Homo sapiens: one gene and its partner. The protein of the gene in region 1 interacts with the protein of each later gene in a pairwise test. Each region holds a gene or a part of one and is shown on either strand. Other genes may lie near its edges.

What was found.
Region 2: the proteins of PEAR1 (region 1) and KRTAP4-5 interact in binary tests that used the Homo sapiens proteins (3 or more experiments, as listed by UniProt).

The regions. Positions count from the first base shown.
Region 1 is NC_000001.11:156,892,218-156,895,817, forward strand, and holds the start of PEAR1 (platelet endothelial aggregation receptor 1 isoform 1 precursor), read left to right. Parts: upstream 1-1,500; 5' UTR 1,501-1,620; intron 1,621-3,600.
Region 2 is NC_000017.11:41,148,424-41,151,842, forward strand, and holds KRTAP4-5 (keratin-associated protein 4-5), read right to left. Parts: upstream 1,403-3,419; 5' UTR 1,345-1,402; coding exon 799-1,344; 3' UTR 501-798; downstream 1-500. UniProt on the Homo sapiens protein: In the hair cortex, hair keratin intermediate filaments are embedded in an interfilamentous matrix, consisting of hair keratin-associated proteins (KRTAP), which are essential for the formation of a rigid and resistant hair shaft through their extensive disulfide bond cross-linking with abundant cysteine residues of hair keratins.

The DNA of each region.
Region 1 (3,600 bases):
AAGCCGCTCAGGACGTCGGTTTCGCCATATGTAAAAGGACATAATGATGAAACCAATCTCGAGTGAAGGATTCAATGAGGCAATACGCCTGAAGGGCTGACCACGGCGAAAGCTAATGTTCATTGCTATCAGGCGGGGAAAGCTAATGTTCATTGCTATCAGGCGGGGAAGGGCTCCCAGGTCTGGTCCCCCGGCTGTGGGGCTCTGGGAAGCGGATGCTAGCCGCGAGGTGGCGCTCGCACCGGACTCGGTGGGCTCAGGAGTTGCTTACGCGCTGGTGGGTGTGGGCCGGAGGCGGGGCGGGCAGAGGCGGAGAATGCTTCCCAGGGTCACACCCTCCCGCGGTGTGACTTTTTTCTTTTCTTTTTTTTTTCTTTCTTTTTTTTAAGATAGGGTCTCGCTCTGTCGCCCAGGCTGGAGTGGAGTGGCAGGATCTTGGCTCACTGCAGTCTCGACCTCCTAGGCTCAAGCGATCCTTCCTCTTCAGCCTCCCCAGTAAACCGAGACCACAGGTGCGCGCCACTACACCTGGCGCGTTTTTTTTTTTTTTTTTTTTTTGACGGAGCTGTGCTCTGTCGCCCAAGCTGGAGTGCAGTGGCACGATCTCGGCTCACTGCCACCTTCGTCTCCTGGGTTCAAGCGATTCTCCTGCCTCAGCCTCCCCCAGTAGCTGGGATTACAGGCGCCCACCACCACGCCCGGCAATTTTTTTTGTACTCTTCGTAGAGACGGAGTTTCACCGTGTTGGCCAGGCTGGTCTCTAACTCCTGACCTCAAATGATCCGCCCTCCTTGGCCTCCCAAAGTGCTGGGATTACAGGCCTGAGCCACGGCGCCCGGCCCTAATTTTTGTATTTTTAGTAGAGACAGGATTTCGCCATGTTGGCCAGGCTGGTCTCCAAACTCTGGGCTCCACGATCGGCCGGCCTCGGCCTTCCAAAGTGCTGGGATTATAGGCATGAGCCACCGCGCCCGGCCTTCCGCAGTGCGATTAGGGGCGGCAGGAGGAGAGGGGGGCCTCGCCCTGTCAGCCTCTCCGAGACTAGTGGGATGCGGTGCCCGGGAGGGGTCTTAATAAGATCACGGTTGCTGGGCAGCACTGGACAGTGCCCGACGTAGGCGATCTCATTGATTCCTTCCCACAACCCCACTTTGCAGATAGGAAAGCTGAGGCACGAGAGGGTAAGTAACCCAGGCCGCACAACGAGGGGAAGCTAGGGAGGGACTGGGGCCCTGGGCCCCTGCGCTGACCTCCCCTCCTCATCCCCTTCTTATCCCCCTCTGCTCCTGGCCCAGGCCGCGCAGAGTCGGCCTCTGTGATCCCACCCAGAATACAGTTTTCCCTCCCGGGCGCCTGGATCTCCCCTCCCCCGGCTCCTGTTTCCTTGTCAAAACTTCCTGCCTTGGCGAGGGCCCGAGTTCCCACCCCCTTCCTGCCCCCCGCCCCTCGGCGCCCCTCCCGGCCCTGCGATCAGCAGCGTCCCGCCTCCCCGCCGCTCCCGCAGTCAGGCTGGGGCTCGAAGTGGGGACCCTCGCCCCGTCCTCGGCTGTCCAGTCCTCCTCCTCGCAGACCCCGGCGGTTCCTACCCCAGGCCGCAGGGGAGACGGGGCCCCAAGGCAGGTGAGTGACTGCGCGCCCCCTGGCAGGGGAGGCCCGGTGGTGCGGCCCCGGAGACCACCCTGCCCCGGGGAAAGGGCTTGCGGTCCCTGAGGTCCCCCTCCTCGACTGGAGTCTGAGGCCCCAGACCCAGGAGTGTAGAAAAGAGGGACTGATGGAGAGAGACGTGAAGGAGGGGAAGGGGACAGTGGAGGGGGCCAGAGAGGATGGGTTGGGGGTTCCCTTCCGTAATGAACATGTAAATGAGATGAAATGCTAGCGAGGTTGTTCCCTAAGCCCCTGGTCCCCGGACTTTGTGAGTCAGGGGCAGCCTGGCTCACTGCCCCCTCCCAGGGCTGGGAAGAGAAGACTGGGTGCTGTCCTTGGCTTGCAAGGGAAGTGTAGCCACAAGAGCATCGACACTGGAGCCAAGACTGCCTAAGTGCCACCCTCCACTCTGCAGCTTACTGTCTGTGGGGTCTTGGTCAAGAGGCCTGACCTCTGTGCCTCAGTTTCTCATTTCTAAAGGAGAATAATATAGGGCCTACCTCATGGGTTGTGAGGCTTAAGTGAGCAAAAACGTGTCTCCTGCTTTGAATGACGCTAGATAAACAGATTATCAGTGTCATCTCTCTGTCCAGCGGCAGGAATGTTTGAGGGAGGATGTAGGGGAAGGACCCAGGTTTGCAGGTCCCTGGCTCTCACATCTTTGCCAGTTATGAGGACTGGGGGTTCAGCTTGAGGTCCCGGGCAACTGGATCCTCAGAAAACTTGGCAGGCTGATGATCTGAAGTTGTGCTAAGGGCCAGGTGGGTGTGTGGGGGGTCCAGGAGCCCAGGCCCCAGCAAGGCAACCCTTCACCCCCACCCCCGTCTCCAGCCTCCAGTAGCTGCTCTCCACTCCCCTGTTCTGGCCTGTTATGAGTGGCCTCTCCTGGGGCTGGGCTGTGACCCTAGTCCCCGGGGACAGGAACAGCTTGTGCTGGCCTGAGGTTCCCAGGCTCAGCCAGGGCTCAGCTCGGGCAGGATTGGGCCGGGTGTCAGCTCTCAACCCTGGCCTAAGCTGGCCTTGTGCTAGGGGGACGGTTGGAGACGGGGGAGCTCATCTCTGAACCCCACTCAAAACCAGCTCATGGTATAGGGCCTGTTGTGTGTGCTTGTGAGCCAGTCATAAGCCAGGGTGTGGGCGCAGCCCTCCTATCTCCTGTGTCTCCTCCCTGCTGTGTGGCCTCTCCCACTCTTGAGGCCTCCGAAGGCCCACCCACCATGTTCCCCACTGCAGGTGGGGCTGCCATCTCTAGGAGCTGGGTTGGCCAGACTCACTTCTCTGCCTTCCTCTCTCTCCACTGGAGGATGAAGCTGAGAGTTGGCATCTGTTCCTCCACCCTCTGTCCCCCCTCAACATCTCCTATCAGACTCTCCCAGAAGAGGAAACTCACGCTCCAGGCAGCCTCATCCACCAGTCGGAAACCTGGAGAGAGATAGAAGGTCATGGGGCTGCTGTGTGCCTCCCCGCACCCGACACACACTGCTGGGGAGGAGGCTGAGGCCAGGTGGAGCCTCCACCACGGCATTCCCCAAGCCTCTCCTCTGAGGAGCCTTGGGAGCCTTGAGAAAGAGGCCTCCCAGGACTCATGGGGGACCCTGGGGTGCCATCCTAGCTTTGGGGAGGATCTTGGCTTCTGTCATCTAACCTACAGGGGAGAAGCCAGAAGGAAGAGGCAGAGAAGACAGGGAAGGAGAGAGAGAAACACAAAGACAGAGATAGAGACAGATATAAATACGGAAACAGAGGCTGACAGATGCAGAGACACAGCAGAGGCACAGACTCATTACAACAAAATGCCCGGAGGGAGAAAAGCAGGCCTAGAAAAATAGAGCAGAGACCTAGGGATAGAACAAAAAGGAGGCGGAGACAGAGGGAGAGGAGGAGAAAGTCAGAAGACCAAAGAGAAACTGTGAGGTTAGAAGGCAGCACACTGGAAACACCAGGCGAGGTGGCTCA
Region 2 (3,419 bases), on another chromosome or scaffold:
CAACACGCCCAACTAATTTTTGTACTTTCAGTAGAGAAGGGATTTCACTATGTTGCCCACACTGGTCTCGAATTCCTGGCCTCAAGTGTTCCACCCACTCAGCCTCCCAAAGTGCTGGGATTGCAAATGTGAGCCACCACGCTCGGCCAGAAACTGTATCCATTAAGAGCCTATACTGCATTATGTACCAGGCCCTGTGGTGAGTATATTACATGGGTTATGTCTCTTAACATTTAAAGAATGTAATGCATTATCTCTATTCACAGAGAAAGAAAACTGAGGCCTGAGGAGGTTAAAAAACTTGCCCCATGCCACGCAACAAATACCTAGGGGAGTCGTGATTCCAATGCAGGGAACATGAATCAAGAGCCCAGGCTCTTAAACATGCTCTCCTGCATTTGAAGAGAGATGGCCCTTGATGTGAACTGACAGGTAAAGACACACACACACACACACACACACGCACAATGAGATCACTAACAAATCAGAAGATTTCAATATTAGGGAAGTGGCTGTTTATTAATACATGAAAACAATATTATATGAGATCATCACAGTTAGTGTCCCCTTCGAATGAAGACACTGCTCATCTAAAAATAACTGCATTGGGGCCTGGCATAACATATTTTAATGAATGTGATTGTCTGTCATTTCCTAGAAGAGCTGAATGTCCACTCTGAATGCCACATGAGACAAACTGGCAGGGAAGTGTTCATTTTTCCAGTGACTGGCTGGCTACAGTGCATTTTAAATGACTAATGAAGACATTCATAGTATGACAAATATCACAAGGAGACATTAGCAGCAAGAGGAGGCACAGCACAAGGGGCGGGGGCAGGTGGAGATGACACAGGTTGGGCGATAGCAAGTGGTGTGGCAGGAGACTCGGCCACAGACTGGACGCACGCAGCAGCAGGGGCGGCAGCAGCTGGATTCACAGCAAGAGGGGTGGCAGCAGCTGGAGATGCAGCAGCTGGGACGGCAGCAAGTGGGCTGGCAGCACACAGACTGGCAGCACTGGGGTCTGCAGCAGCTGGACACACAGCAGCTGGGGCAGCAGCAGGTGGTCCTGCAGCAGGTGGTCCTGCAGCAGGTGGTCTGGCAGCAGCAGGGGCGGCAGCAGCTGGATTCACAGCAATAGGGGCGGCAGCAGCTGGAGATGCAGCAGCTAGGGTGGCAGCAGGTGGGCTGGTAGCACACAGACTGGCAGCACTGGGGCTTGCAGCAGCTGGGGCGGCAGCAGGTGGTCCTGCAGCAGGTGGTCTGGCAGCAGCTGGGGCGGCAGCAGTTCTCCAGGCCACAGCTCTGCTCAGAGCTGACAGAGCCACAACAGGAGCTGACCATGGTGTCAGAGGGTGGAGGTTCTGGGTGGATTTCTAGAAGAATGAGGTTCTCAAGTTTGGAAGTGTCCTTGGGCCACAGCCTCTTATATACTGCCCAGCTGTCTTGTTGGTACTACATTTTCCTTGTTTTTGTTTACTTAATAACTAAGTGATTATCAGATTACACAATAATGTTTGCCCATTTAATGGTTTAAACTTGTTGAAAACAAAATTTTCTTGTCCGGATGTAATAAGATCTATCATGTCTGCCTTCTCTCATGATTCACACCTCGGTAGCATCTTCTAGACCACGTTCTCTTCCTCTTCCTCCACAGAGGGCTGTTCATGTGATTCCCTGCATTTGGAATTGCATTTCTTACTCTCGCTTCAGGTACCCTCTACCAAAATGGGATTTGGTCAGTCACACTTCCAGTTATGCATTCCCTCTAGTGACCAATAGCGAGGAAAACCCATCTGCTCAGTGTGGCATTCCTAGTCTGTGGGTCATTATTAAGCAATAAGCAAAGGGATAGCAATACCTGCATGTGGCCTTGGTGACCTCTACACTATTGAAATGGGTTTCCCTGAATGTTTCAAATTTTGGGTCATATTCCATATCCTTAAATTTTTATACTTGGTGTTACTAATGGGTCAGTTTCTTAAATTGATACTTTGCTCTCCTATATTTTGTGTCATGTCTCTCCAGTTAATCTATTAGATTCCGGAAGACATAGTCCCATTTTTATTCCATAACTCATTGTTTTTTTTAAATGCCTCTAACTGTCTGTTAACATAATGCAGGTGTGTGTTTTCACTTTTTAAAAAAGAAATTTGAGATAATTGTAGATTTACATACAGCTGTAACAAACAGTCCCAGGAGAGGCTGTCTGTACTTCACCCAGGCTCCCTAACACTGTGTAACACCTGTATAATACTTTTAAGAATCTATCTACCCCCACTACTGTGTCTTGCATGATGTGCTTAATATAGAAAGAACTCAAGCTCAGTGAAATTAAAAACAATTAGTTATTTTTCAGATTGACGTATAATATTGTATTTACCACATACAACATAATATTTTGAAGTATATATACATTGTGGAAGGATTAAATCTAGCTAATAAATGCATTACCTCTCATACCTATCATTTTTTTGTGGTGAGAACGCTTAATATCCATTCTTAGAATTTTTCAAGAATACAGTATGTACAATATATCATCATTAACTATAGTCACTATGCTATACAGTAGACCTCTTGAACTGATTCTTCCTGTCTAGCTACAATTATATGTCTTTTGACCAGTATCTCCTCAAGCCCCTGACTCCCTAGCCACCCCTAGCCTCTGATTATCTTCATTCTCTGCTCTACTTCTATGATATCAACTTTTTTGAGTGCGATCATGTGAGTGAGATCATGTGCTATCTGTCTTTCTATGACTGATTTACTTCACTTAGCATAATTTCCTTGAGATGTATCCATGTTGTCACAAATGACAGAACTTCCGTCTTTTTACGGCCAAATAGTATTGCACTGAGTATATACTGCATTTTCTTTATCCCCTTACTCATTGGTGGACACTTGCACTGTGTGCATATCTTGGCAATTGTGAATAGTGCTGCAATAAATCTGGACATGCAGTTATTTCTTCAACATACTAAGTTCATTTCCTGTAGATATATAAGGTACCCAGAAGTGGATTGCTGGATAATACGGTAATTCCAGTTTTAATTTTTTGAGGAACCCTTATATTGTTTTCCATAATGGCTGAACTAATTTATATTCCCACCAACAGTGTACGAGGGAGTTTTTTTCACATCCTTGCCAATACTTGTCATCTTTTGTCTTTTTGATGATAACCATTCTAACAGGAATAAGGTGATATCTCAATGTGGTTTCGATTTGTATTTCCCTAATGATTAGTAATGTTGAGTACTTTTTCACAAACCTGTTAGCCATTTGTATGTCTTCTTTTGAGAAATGTCTAGTCAGGTCTTTTGCCCATTTTTAATCAGGTTTTTGTTTTCTTGCTTGTGAGCTGTTTGAGCTCCTTTTGTATTTTGGATGTTAACCCCTTATGAGATATATACTTTATAAAT